Linked DNA regions of Homo sapiens: region 2 is linked to region 1. Evidence: fine-mapped expression QTL. Tissue or cell type: esophagus muscle. Region 1 holds a variant in brackets; the other region holds the start of a gene. All regions are shown on one strand. Distances are from middle to middle.

What was found. PIP is the estimated chance that this variant, and not a neighbour inherited with it, causes the effect.
Region 2: RUFY3 starts here. The variant in region 1 is fine-mapped to the expression of RUFY3 in esophagus muscle (GTEx, PIP 0.94).

The regions. Positions count from the first base shown.
Region 1 is chr4:70,755,713-70,763,007 of GRCh38, forward strand. It overlaps RUFY3 (RUN and FYVE domain containing 3), which reads left to right. Exons shown (of 18, transcript NM_001037442.4): 2 at 6,807-6,980. Among named protein-coding and RNA genes, the nearest start is that of RUFY3, 37 kb to the left of the region's middle. The variant C/G (reference allele first, on the strand shown) is at 4,505.
Region 2 is chr4:70,718,270-70,725,564 of GRCh38, forward strand. RUFY3 (RUN and FYVE domain containing 3) reads left to right here and starts at 3,695. Exons shown (of 18, transcript NM_001037442.4): 1 at 3,695-4,482. The coding sequence starts at 4,305.

The sequences.
Region 1 (7,295 bases):
ACACTGAGGCGGGCGGATCACGAGGTCAGGAGATCAAGACCATCCTGGCTAACACAGTGAAACTCCGTATCTACTAAAAATACAAAAAGTTAGCCGGGCGTGGCAGCAGGTGCCTGTAGTCCCAGCTACTCAGGAGGCTGAGGCAGGAGAATGGCGTGAACCTGGGAGGCGGAACTTGCAGTGAGCTGAGATCACGCCTCTGCACTCCATCCCGGGTGACAGAGCGAGATTCTGTCTCGAAAAAAAAAAAAAGGAAAAAAAGAACATTGATTTGAGAACCAGTCAACATAATGTATTATTTTAACTATAGTCACTTCCACATGATTTCTTTAGTCCAGTGCTCTTGCTGTATTCCCCACCAATGTGATCTGCACCATCGTCCATCTAATCGCCAAAACTACAAATAGGGAAGTTACTCTCCATTCTCCTTGACTATGTCCAGATAGTCAAGCTATGAAATGCTAACGTTCTACCCCAGAATGTCTCTCCATGCTGACTCCCTCTTCTCCATACAGCCCCACTGCTCTAGTTCTACCCTTTATTATTTATTTTCCTCTGCCATTGCAGTAGACCCTTACTTGCCCCTCAGCTTTGAGTTCATGCACCCTTCCAATCATCTTCCAAAAGGATGCAAGAATGGCTTCTCTAAAATTCAAATTTGTGACATCACATCCCACGTTAAAGTCTTCACTGACTTTAAGGTGAAATCTGTACTCCTTAAACAAGGTCCTTAGCAGTCTGCCCTTGTCTCTTTCTCTTGTCTCATCTCTAATACTTAAACCCCTGGCATTTTTTCAGTGTTGTTTTTCTTCTGTGTATGTTATGTTCTTCCATACTTCTGTACCTTTACCTAAGCTATTCCTTCCATCCTGTTCCCTTCACATCTCTACTGCTACCCCTTCCTTACGTGACTCCTTTCTTTTTATCCTTTAAGATTGAACTCAAAAGTCTCATCCTCTGAGGATTTATAGAAACACACGGGGCCCCTAAAATTGAAGGAAAAATAGGGAGCCAGGTCAGATACCTTTCTCCTATGCATATTCCCCTGGTATCCTGTATATACCATTGTTGGAGTTCTTACTGCAGTGTAGTTGCAGTACTTCTCAGTCTTCTCCACAGAAGTGCACCCAATGTCAGAGGAAATTGTATTATGCTTACAGCCTGCCTGAAACCCTAAATTAATGACATCAATTATCTTAGTTTTAAGAAATGTAGAAAACTAACATTTCCATAGAATAGGTTTATGTCATTTAACAAAAAAAAAATTTTTTTAATTAGCTGGGCATGGCGACCCATGCCTGTAATCTCATTACTTTGGGAGGCTGAGGTGAGAGGATCACTTGATCTTAGGAGTTTGGGACCAGCTGGGCAACATAGGGAGACCCTGTCTCTACAAAAAATAAAAAAAAAATTAGCCGGGCATGGTTGCACACACCTGTTTATTATCCCAGGTACTCAGGAGGCTGAGATGGGAGAATCACTTGAGCCTGGGAGATTGGGACTACAGTGAGTTGTGATCGTGCCACTGCACTCCAGCCTGGGTGATAGAGCAAGATCCTGCCTCAAAAATCAAAACAAAACAAATGGAACATTTAAAATTATTTGTTCTGGGCCGGGCGCGGTGGTTCATGCCTGTAATCCCAGCACTTTGGGAGGCCGAGGCAGGTGGATCACCTGAGGTCAGGAGTTTGAGACCAGCCTGACCAATATGGTGAGACCCTGTCTCTACTAAAAATACAAAACTAGCCGCACGTGGTGGCACATGCCTGTAATCCCAGATACTTGGGAGGCTGAGACAGGAAAATCACTTGAACCCAGGAAGACGAGGTTGCAGTGAGCCAAGATCGCGCCATTGCACTCCAGCCTGGGCAACAAGAGTGAAACTCCATCTGAAAAATTAAAAAATTAAAATAAAATAAAATATTTGTCCTGGAATAAAATTGATCTTTGTTAAATATGATTATGTTTATCCTGAAATTTCAGGTGTTTGCTGTACACTGCCCTATTTGTTCTCTATAAGTTTGTATTAACCAACTGCGATAAATAGTAAGCACTTTGATGGCAGGGACTAAGTCTATTATTACCTCTGTATTTCTAGCATTAAAACAATATCTAACACATAGTAGATGTTCAATATGTATTGAAAAAAATAATTGCATGAAAGTTCTCTATTGGAATGATAGTGTTAAATGCCAGTGTTGTGAACATTTTAAAATTTTAAATCATTTTTCTCATAGGAAAAGCTTGACTGATGATATCATGAAAGTCATGCATGTTTTAAAATGGCTTTCTGGCTTATACAATATAACAGAATCTTTTTTTACTTTATATAGTTAAAAGTACAAAATACACAGAAAAGAATCCTATATTATAAGTATTCAGCTCAGTACAATGTTACACACACAACATGCTTGCATAATAAACACCCATACCAACAAACAGAAATTCACCTGCCCTCAGAAGCCCCTCCATACTCTGTCAGGTCATTGCAGCCCTTTTTAACAGGATAGGTTAGTTTTGCAAAATCATTTTACACTTGAATAGTATTTAAGACAAGTAATGTTGAATAGAAAATATTCTGTGACAAATCAGGTTAATGATTTAATATTCATTATTAGCAGCCAACATTATTTGTAGGCCAGGTGTAGTGGCTTATACCTTTAATCCCAGCACTTCGGGAGGCCAACATGGGAGGATGGCTTGAGGCCAGGAGTTCAAGACCAGTTTGAGCAACATAGCAAGACTAAATAGCCATACTTTTGTATACTATTCAGCACAAAAATGTTAATAATAAGAATTAAATAATACTCATTTTAGCTTTTGTGTTCATTTACAATGAGCAATATATTCTTTTTAAAATTTTTGATGTGTAATAATTATACATATTTAGGGATACAGACTGACATTTTGGCTCATGTATACAATGTAATGATCAAATCAGGGTAATTAGCATATCTCTTGCCTCAAACACTTATTTATTAATTTTGGGAATATTCAAAATCCTCTCTTCTAGCTATTTGAAAATATAAAAAAAAAAAAATTATTGCCAGGCGTGGTGGCTCACACCTGTAATCCCAGCACTTGTGGGAGGCCGAGGCAGGTAGATCACGAGGTCAGGAGATCAAGACCATCCTGGTTAACACAGTGGAACCCCATCTCTACTAAAAATACAAAAAATTAGCCCAGCGTGGTGTGGGTGCCTGTAGTCCCAGCTACTCGGGAGGCCGAGGCAGGAGAATGACATGAACCCGGGAGGCGGAGCTTGCAGTGAGCCGAGATCGTGCCACTGCACTCCAGCCTGGGCGACAGCAAGACTCTGTCTCAAAAAAAAAAAAGAAAATTATTGACTATAGTCACCATACAATGCTACAGAACACTAGAACTTACTCATCTTATCTAGTTGTAGCTTTGCATCTGTTAACCAACCTCTCCCTATCTTCCCCTCCTCCATACTCTTTTCATTTTCTAATAATCACAATTCTACTCTCTACTTCTATGAGCTCAACTTTTTTAGCTTCCACATATGAGTGAGAACATGTGGTATTTATCTTTCTGTCCCAGACTTATTTCACTTAACATAATGTCCTTTAGGCTCATCCATGTTGCCATGAATCATAGGATTTCATTCTTTTTATGGCTGAATTTGTGTGTGTGTGTGTATGTGTGTGTGTGTGTGTGTGTGTGTGTGTATACCACATTTCTTTATTCATGTTGATGACACTTAGGTTGATTTCATATCTTGGTTATTGTGAATAGTGCTGAATTAAACATGGGAATGCAGCTATCTCTTTGTTATATCGATTTCCTTTCCTTTGGATAAATATCTGGTAGTGGGATTGCTGAATCATATGGTAGTTCTACTTTTAGTTTTTTGAGGAACCTCCGTACAGTTTTCCATAAAGGCTATACTAATTGACATTCCCACCAACAGTGTATAAGAATTCCCTTTTTTCTGCATCCACACCAGCATTTTTTATTTTTTGTCTTGTTAGTAATAGCCATTCTGAGTGAATTGTTACTTTTAAGCTCTTATCTCTAACAATCAAATTACTATAACAGATTTTTGTTTCACTTTCATTTGTTTAGATTAGTAGTTCTCAATGTGGAAGGACCTGATTTAATCTCCCAAAGAATATTTGGCAGTGTCTGGAGACATTTTTGGTTGTCTTAACCCACCAAAAACAGTTGTCAGTGCTACTGACATCTAGTGTTACCCACTACTGGGTTGCTGTGAAAATTAGTTTTCAGAACAGAGCCCCATAAAAATGAATTATCTAGCTTAAAATGTCAACAGTGCCAAGGTTGAGAGTAGTGTTTTTTAAAGAATGGGTAGGTTGTTTATGTTTGATGGAAGTTAGTTTAAATAGATTGTAGCACCTTACTAATGGAGTCCATGATATCAGAAATTTAATTCCCATAGACGCTAGTTAACCTGTCTGTAGTTCATGCACTCCAGACCTCAGCCAGATGTCTTAAACATTTCTGCTGCAGATTATAAGAAGAA[C/G]AAGATGAGAAAATGTAGATGGGTTGGTATAAATCTATCACTACTTCTGGAAAAATGTCTCAATATGATATTTTTTACTTAACCCAAGTCTATCTCTCACCACATGACTAGTTCTCACTACGTTGGAATCAGCTTGTAAACTTTGACTAGCAGCATTGTTTAATCTTGTTATAAGTTCCTGAATTAATGGTCTACAGGCTTGAGGCAGAGTGAATGCCTCAAAGTTATGGGCAGGCAGTTATCTAGTACCAACCATAGTCTCCTGCCATCTATTGGGAGGTGTCAGGTGGGAAGGCTAGTAGCCCTCTACACATATTCATACCCACACCCCAGCTCTATTTTTTTTTTTTGAGTAATTATAGGAGGTCAGAAACACTAGAATGTACATACATGCTGGTAATAAATGGAAATTAATATCTGATAGTTTTCTTCATGGCTGTCTTTCAGGGCATAGTTTTCCATGTATTTTGCTGTCCTCTTGTGAGAATACTACCCTTGACAAGTTGATCTACATTTAAGCTATGGCCACATTTAAACTATGGCCCTAAAACATTTGTTGTTATGCAAGAAAGAATTAATGGTGATATATACCAATTCTGACTCTCACATAAAGTGTTTCTCCAAAAGTAACCTCAGACAACATAACAACAAACCAAGATTTATATAGTTGGAATTGCAAATCCGTAAGTCCTTAAACTTAATGAGAAGATTAATTTGGAATTTGACCATTTGACTCTGCTCATTTAACTTTGAAAGCAGATATAAATAAAAACCTTGTATGAAGAAAATTGCTTGGGATAATTTGCATTAAACAGTCTGTTTTTTGCTAAGTGGCTTATTTGTATTATGGAAGCATAGCCTTATTAGTATTTTTAGTCTTCCTAAGAAGAAATGGAATACATCATAGAGCTCTAGGCCTTCTTTAGTTTTCAGTACAAATTTGGTATATTTGGTGTTTGGGAGGATATACATGGCATAAGGTAAAGAGAGCATTAGCTTTCACGTCAGATCCAGGTCCAGATTCTGCCACTTATAAACTGTTACACCTTGGACCACCTAGCTATTATGGGCCTGCTTTAGCACCGGAAAGAAGGGAGAATACCTAAATATGATGAGAGAATAAGTAGGTAAAATAATCATGTAAAAGAATGGTCAGGAGGAGTCTGGCCTCTGGCTCTGTCATTTATTATTGTCTGTGCCCATGGGCCGGCTGCAACTATTTGATTGACCTAAAATGGGATGGTGACTTGCCCGAGGTCATACAGTGAGTCAGGGCAGAGCAGCTGAAGCTTTACTCTCTAAGTCTCATTTTCCTTCCCTGTAAAATTGTTGTATTGGTGACTGTCTCACAGCATGTTGTAAGGAGAGATGGAGATCATAATTGTAAGAGGTAGCCCACAGTGCTGGCACAGTGTAAGCACCAATAAATGAAGGTAATGAGTACAATAAAATGTGTCACTTAGCCCCTTTCCCCAAATAGTTTATCCATCTGGTTGATGAGAGCCATACACTGTATGCTAAGACTTAAAAATGTGGGAGTTGATTAAGTTCTAGTACTGCATTATACTAATAATGCTAGTGCATAGTTTAAAGAATAATAAAATACCATAATGCAAAGTTTGTTTAAGCCCTTTACCCTTTTTTTCCTACATTGGGGCTTTATTTTTAGAGCACTTCACAAATTATGCAGAGAAAAGAGGGGTAGGCAAGAATGGAAGCAGAGAGAGCAGTGTGAAGGTAGTACAGTAGGGAGTTATGACAGATGCTTAGGTTAGGGTGATAGCAGAGGTGGTGGTGAGACTATTAAAAGACTACTCAGCCAGGCATGGTGGCTCACGCGTATTATCCCAACACTCTGGGAGGTCGAAGTGGGAATATCGCTTCAGCTCAAGAGCTCAAGACCAGCCTGGGCAACAAAGTGAGACCATGTCTCTACAGAAAATACAAAAATTAGCCAGTGTGATGGCGTGCGCCTATAGTTCCAGCTACTTGGGAGGCAGAGACAGAAGGGTTACTTGAGCCCAGAAGGTTGAGGCTACAGTGAGCTATGATCATGCCACTGCATTCCAGTTTGGGCAACAGAGCAAGACCCTGTCTCAAAGAAAAAAAGAAAGAAAAGACTACTCAAGGCTTGAGATTTGATAAAATAGTTCATTTTACTGCTTCATTGAGGATATTCTTAAAGGAAACTGGCATTTTTTTTCACAGTGAGTACATGGTGGAGAAGAATACAACTAATACTGAATTTTAAAATGTGCTATTTCTAGTAACCAGCCTTCATCTTCTTCCCCTTTGGCTGCAGATCCTAATTATCTCATGGCTAATGAACGCATGAACCTCATGAACATGGCCAAGCTGAGTATCAAGGGCTTGATTGAATCAGCTCTGAACCTGGGGAGGACTCTTGACTCTGACTATGCACCTCTCCAGCAATTCTTTGTGGTGATGGAGCACTGTCTGAAACATGGCTTGAAAGGTAGGCCATCACCCCAAAATGCAAATATGCATGCAGCTGTTTTCTAGCAATGCATACTATAGAAGAAAGCATTCTTTGTGGAGCCAAAGAATAAGAGGCTTGAATTAATAATATTAATCCATTGGAATGCAGTCTTTTATAGGAGCAGGGTTATGGTTGACTCAATGGACTTATAGGGCTTTAAAAATACAGATCATTAAATGTTACAGTTGGAGGGGCCATTATAAGTAATCAAGTACAGTACAGTAGTTCTGTTTGACAGGTGGAAATAGGCCTGCCCAGAATGAGACATGACTTGGTCAAGGTCACACATTG
Region 2 (7,295 bases), 37 kb before region 1:
CAGAGACATTGAGCCTGTCAAGTTAACCTTTGTCTTATAGTAGCAGCCGAGTACAAATATCCTTTAAGAGGAATGTAACTTCTGACTTTGAAGTGTGACTCTTATTTGCTTTGAATCCATCATAATGTGGAAAATACAGACTGTTTAAGCAGCTAGAACGTAGTATTTTTTGGATCTTCATTTTGGATTTGAACTTCACACAGGCCTATTCTTTTAGGGCCACAGACTGAACTCCCACCCGCCTCACAACCATCTTACAAATAGGTGCCATTACTCACAAATGGGATCAAATGAGAAAATAGTTCAATACAGCTCATACAGTAATTACTCTGTATGTGAGAAAAAAAATCAAGGTTTGAATATCTTACTGATGGCTTAACTTTAACTTCATATTCAAAGCTAAGATGTTTACTTAGTAAAGACCAAAATGTAAAAACGGTACTAAGCAATATCTAAAATCTTTTTTTTTTTTCTTTGAGACGGAGTTTCACAGGCTGGAGTGCAGTGGTGCAATCTCACCTCACTGCAACCCCCGCCTCCCAGGTTCAAGCGATTCTCCTGCCTCAGCCTCCAGAGTAGCAGATTACAGGCATGTGCCACCACGCCCAGCTAATTTTGTATTTTTAGTAAAGATGGCGTTTCTCCATGTTGGTCAGGCTGGTCTTGAACTCCCGACTTCAGGTGACCCGCCTGCCTCAGCCTCCCACAGTACTGGGATGACAGGCATGAGCCACCGTGCCCGGCCGTAGAATTGTTTTTATAAGTTTCTACAAATAGCACTGTTTTCATAGTAACTTCTTTGCCTGTGAACAATGGATAACTGTTCGTGCTGAAGACTCAATGGTGTTTACCTAAAGAACAGCGTAGAAGTACAGTTTTTCTTGCCCACCCCCGGGTCTTATTTCTGAAATGGCTGCCAACACCTCAAACTGGTAGATCTGGGAAATTCAAGGATACCAATACAGGCATGTTTTTCTTTCCTTGCCAAAAACTTTAGTTGTTTTGGGCTTGCCTCTCTGTGTCCTCTACCTGGAGAGAGGCAGGGTGGGATGGATCTTCCGAAGGAATGTTAATCAAGTTTCTTGCTCACTAACCTTGATGTTCCTGTTGTGTTGGTATGTTGCAATCAATCTAGATCTGTTCAAGTTAGTAAATGCTTACTGGGGTGAAGAGATTGTTGTGGTTTGTGACAAGGCCAAATTCAGGTTTTGGACCCCAGACAATCACATGGCATTCGGATTTATTCATGTATTCCTTGTTCTGTTTTAAGAACATATCAGTGATCTAGAGTTTTGATATCACACATACAGATAGCTAGGGCTGTTTGGAGTTGTGGTTCCAGGAATGTCCCATGTAATTTGAAGGTTTTAATGACTACTTACTATGTTTTGAAGTATTGCATGATATAAAGTGAATCTATAAACTGTCCCCTTATTAATATATAATATGGGAATATTTTTGGCTAGAAAGGAATTGAACTGAATTAAATGAGAATGTGTTAAATGAAGGCTTGTGTTCAGTATTTGGATATGAAAATTCTGTTTCCTGGAAAAGGTGTTTCTGTCTTACTGCTGCGTGCCTAGTGCCTGGATCACTACCTGGCATGTGGAGCACCTCTTAGTGAATATCTGTTGAATGAATGAATGAATGAATGGCTCTGAGTCTAGATGTAGGGTAATGATGAGAGAGAATGAGATAGAAATAAAACCAGGAGTATTTTGCTTTCCTTAGTAACTTACTGATTTTCCCCAATTATAAATAAGCCTATATATATGCCTTCTTACATTGTACCAGTATACCCTCCTTCTTTTTTTTATTTTGAGACAGGGTAGAGTGCAGTGGTATGATCTCGGCTCACTGCAGCCTCTGCCTCCTGGCCTCACGTGATTCTTCCACCTCAGTCTCCCAAGTAGCTAGGACCACATGTGCGCGCAACCATACCTTGCTAATTTTTGTTTTTGTAGAGATGGAGTTTTGCCATGTTGCCCAGGCTGGTTTCAAACTCCTGAGCTCAAGCCATTCACCTGCCTCAGCCTCCCAAAGTGCTGGGATTACAGGCACATGCCACCACATCTGACTAATTTTTGTATTTTTAGTAGAGATGAGGTTTCACCATGTTGGCCAGGCTGGTCTCGAACTCCTGACCTCAGGTGATTTGCCCGCCTTGGCCTCCCAAAGTGCTGGTATTATAGGCATGAGCCACCGCGCCCAGCCATCCGCCCTGTCTTCGTAACAATATGAAAATGCCAGTTTCTCTACAGAATTTGATTATTAGCATTTTTTTCTTTCAGTTCAGTCTCAAATTATGATGAAGCATTTGAGATTTTAACAATATTCAAGGAGAATTTTTTTAGTTTTCAGAAATTAGGTAAATCAAGATGTCCCTCTGATAACAATCCCTAGAAAGGAATAGTCTCAGGTCATATTTCTTGAATTTGTATGTTCCTCCTTAAAATTGGAACCCTTCAATACAAAAACAAACAAACACTTTCTTTCAATTGTCCAAAACATTTTCAAAGAAAATTCTTATTCTTCTCTTTGTAATTTATGTAGTTCATAAAGCAAGTACCTGCCCTTTTGCTACCAAGGTATAAATGCCTCATTGGATAATATAGGGCCGTGTGTGTGTGTGTGTGTGTGTGTGTGTGTGTGTGTGTGTGTGTGTATTAAGAAAATATAATTGTCTTCAGTATCTTATCGAATGGGAGGATTTTAAAAATATAACATGGTTTAATCTGCTTAGAAACATATTTCATGCTTAAGGCTGGGCATGGTGGCTCACGCCTGTAATCCCAGCACTTTGGGAGGCTGAGGTGGGAGGATCATGAGGTCAGAAGTTCAAGACCAGCCTGGCCAAGATGGTGAAACCCCGTCTCTACTAAAAATACAAAAATTAGCTGGGCGTGGTGGTGGGTGCCTGTAATCCCAGCTACTCGGGAGGCTGAGGCAGAGAATTGCTTGGACCTGGGAGCTGAGATCACGCCACTGCACTCCAGCCTGGGCTACAGAGCAAGACTCTGTCTCAAAAAAGAAAAAAGAAAAAAAAAGAAACGTATTTTATGCTTAATACAGAAACTTGATAAATACAACAAAATCAAAAAGGGGGGAAATTGCCATTAATTGGGAAAGATTTTACTTTTTTAACTTGAAGTTTTTTTTTTGCATTTCTGCCTAACCTAAAAGGTCAGGTTTTTGTACCTTGGAGAAGGAAATTATAAATGCCCAAGAATAAGATATTTAAATTGAAAATCTACTTTAGCTTTTCTTTTTATCTTTTTGTTTTTTTTCCCTCTGAGAACCTCAATTTTTTATGCTTTAGCTTTTCTTAAAACATAACATTTAGCATAGTAAAGAATTTTAATAGCTATGTAGATAAGAATGAAAGAGGTGAATTATATGCTTGTTAAATTAATCTAACTGCCTCTTTTACCATCTTTACTATAGATTATTATCCGGTATTAATTGTCATCCTTTTATTCAGTCCTTGATCCCAAAGTAAGAAGAATTGATGAGGATATGTGCATTGTGTTATGTCTGATCACAGTTTGACTAGCACAGTCTGGAAGTGGGTTGTACAGGATGAGAGAGAGAAGCCTAATTGCTCTCCCAGCATCAGCAGCATCTATAAAGCATCCTGGGAATTGCTTGCCCTACGTTCAGAGCAGCTGGTCACATGAGCCTGAATTTTCAGTTCAGTTCATTAGTCAGCCATTTTGGTCAACACCCTGCTTACTGCGCACGGCCAATCCTATGAGAACTCAGCATCCCAGCTCATCTGAGCAGATCCTGGAAGTGATTTCTGCAGCTCAGGATTTTTTTTTTAAGCTACATTGAAAATATAGGTTTATTTTTTGTTCAGGTTTTTCTTTTATATTTTTTTTCTGCACAAAGGAGGAGGATTTTTCACTTACTCATATCGAGGCCAGATTTTTAAAGCCAGCTAAGGCAGCATCAGCTGTGCGGGATTTAAAGCCTATAGCTCAGCTGAAAAAAAAGGTGGGGGGCAGGGAAGGGAAGATAAAAGGAGAGGAAGCTGGGAGAAGACAAGCATCATCTTATTTTGCTATGTGGTAGGAACTGTCTATAAGATAGTGTAGAATTGTTTATCTTGAGCAGTTTGTTCTTAACCTATAAGGTATTTTTCCTTTTTTTTTTTTTTAAACCTCCCCCACCCTTTTCCTGAAAGCTTTGTTTCAGAGCTTTGTATTGGGTTTTTTTGGTGAGGAGGTTGTATTTATTTTTTTGGTGTGTGTGTGTGAGTGTGTGTGTGTCTGTGTGTGTGTTGTGGTCCCAGCTGAGTCATCATGTCTGCTCTGACGCCTCCGACCGATATGCCAACCCCCACCACTGACAAGATCACACAGGCTGCCATGGAGACCATCTACCTTTGCAAATTCCGAGTGTCCATGGATGGAGAATGGCTCTGCCTGCGAGAGCTGGATGACATCTCACTTACACCTGACCCAGAGCCTACCCATGAAGGTATGGTCAGATCCTGTCCGCTAGTATTTCACCAGCATCCTCATTGTTATGGGGGAGGGCTGGGAGGATCAGGGAGAGGTAGAAAGAACCTACACTCTCAACTGTTAACAGTCCTGAAAACCTTGCATCCTTACTTACCACCCAGCTCCCCTTCTCTTGCTCATGGGGGAAAGATAATTTTTTTTCTTGCCCCTTTAGGTATCCTTTCAAAAGATGCTGGATACTCGTTTAGAGTTCTTTGTCTTTAAGCCTCTAAATAAAACATTTGAGGTCACTTATCACATCTGATTCTATTCAATAATGAGAAAGCTATTAATTTTGTTCATATATGAAAATGTTATAGAAATTGTAGTGATTTATAACACTAAGTTAAGACAACATGACTATAATTATAGGATTGTACATGATGAATACAGTAGAAACACCAGGGTATTTGGTAATGGTATCCTCACCATTATATGAGGATACAATTTTAAGCAAGTTATGACATCTAGGAAATGTTTGATAAAACATTTTTTTAACAATATGGATTATTAGGTTAGATGAGAAAATAACTTTTCAGCATTTATTTATTGAATATGGACTCCTAAGAAAGCATAATGCCTGGAAAGGTTAAATATGATTAATATGGCATCCCTATAGATTACAATAGAATGGTAATATTGGAATCTATTGGCCATTGCTTTTTATAAATTATTTGTGGTAACTATTATGATCCATTTGAGATTTCCACTGTCAGTACCTCTGAGATCTTTGTGGTCTCTTGACTTGCGACTTTTTTCCAGGACTCTTGCTAATTTATGAGAGGTTTTCTGCTTCTACCCTTTAATTCTCTTAATACCACAGAAAGAGAGCTGATTTGAATCATAGCTACAAATCGTTTTGTTTTTAATACAGTTGCTTCTTAGCTAAGGTTTATTCTCTGTCCTTATACTGATGAAAAAAAACAAAAAACGCTTGCATATGAGGAGAAATTCTTTATAAACATCTGCCTGATAGTTAGGCACATCGACAGGACAAAGAAGACCATAGGTGAATTGTACCTAGCAGATGGGGTTAGGAAAGGTGATTCTCTGCCTTTGACCTTGAGTTGAAATCTTATCATGACTCAGAATTTTCCCATTGTGTTTGATAAGCATTTTATCTTCCCAGTCAGCCTTAGCCTTGAGAAAGTTTTAGGGATGGTTAATAACACAGAACACAAAGCAGTCATTTTGGGTGTGTCTTTAAGAACAATGTTTAAGTGGTTTTTAAGACCCTTTGCATCTTTTAACAATTGGTTTGTTAATTAGACAGCTTTCTTTGGCTGTATGTTTCGTTATGTGCACAAGTTATAAGACATCAGCTGAAATTCCATGCAATGCCAGTACTATTTATTTTTTATTATTATTTTATTCTATATTTTCATCAAAACATCGTTACATCCAACAATTCCAGTACTACTTAAAACAGCCTCCAAAGCTTTAAAAGTCTTTAGGGAAGAAAAATACAGTTTTAGAAGGCTACCAAGAAGTCTTCTGGCAACTGCCTCAGTTTACATATTTTGTTTGAAAAAAATGTATTCCCGTCCAATTTGAGAGTTATACAATATGAAATATTCCCTTTATCATGAAATCTAGTTTACCAGTGTCTCAAAAATAATTTTTAACAATTTTAACACCTCAAATATATGTTTTTGGAGCAGGATTCCTATGGATAAGCAAAAGTGAGCTGTTTGGTTCATGTAAGCGTTTTTAGCAGCGCCATTTGAATTCTTCATAGAGAAATCTGTAGCAACACATTTCTCAGTATGGAAAATGTGTGAGAGCTATAATCTAAGTAATAAATTGTATGTCTGCTGATTAAAGAAATCAGATAAATACAGAGTTTCCAAGACCTGTAATCAACTATAGAGGATTTGGAAGAAAATAGAGAAATGCCGACAGTGCATTTTAGAATTTTGCCTTAAATTGGGCAAGAAAGCTATTATTTTAAATTACTAGAAATGAAAATAAAGAAAGCATAGTCCCATGAAAGCCTGTGAGTATTACTGCCTTGCTCCATTACCAAACTCTGGATATTTAAACAGTCATTTGGTCCCAAGAAATACCCACTTTTATGTTAATACCACTGATAGTTATTAGATTTAATTTAGCTATAAGCATTTAAGTGGTGGTCACCAGGCCCATGATTATGTGAATCTCACCTTGTTCACAAAATGGAACTCCTGATGTCTGGACGCGGGAGTATTCAGACTGCTTTCCGGGCTGATTCACAGAGGGAAAAACATCTGACCACCCAAATCCTAGAGTGAAGTCTCCTCACTCCCACAAAAGAAAATAGGCAAACAGCATAATGTTCCCTCTTAAAATGATGTAGACTGACTGTGTGTACTCAGCAATAGAGGCTCTGTGGCTTCCATATTTTATTTTCTTAAAACCAGAGTTCCTGGCCCTTCACTGAGCAGTCCGCAGTATAGGCCTGGACCTAGAGTTTCTGCCTACTTTAACCCTTAAATAAATGAAAATAAAAGCATTCACTTCATTATCTCAATGCTTATTGGTGGTCAATGAGGGATTATCTCTCTTTTGTCTTATATACTCTTTTTTTTTTTTTTGAGACAGAGTTTTGTTCTTATTGCCCAGGCTGGAGTGCAATGGCGCAATCTTGGCTCACTGAAAACTCTGCCTACCGGGTTCAAGCGATTCTCCTGCCTCAGCCTCCCAAATAGCTGGGATTACAGGCATGCGCCACCACACCCAGCTAATTTTTGTATTTTTAGTAGAGACGGGGTTTTTGCATGTTGATCAGGCTGGTCTCGAACTCCCAACCTC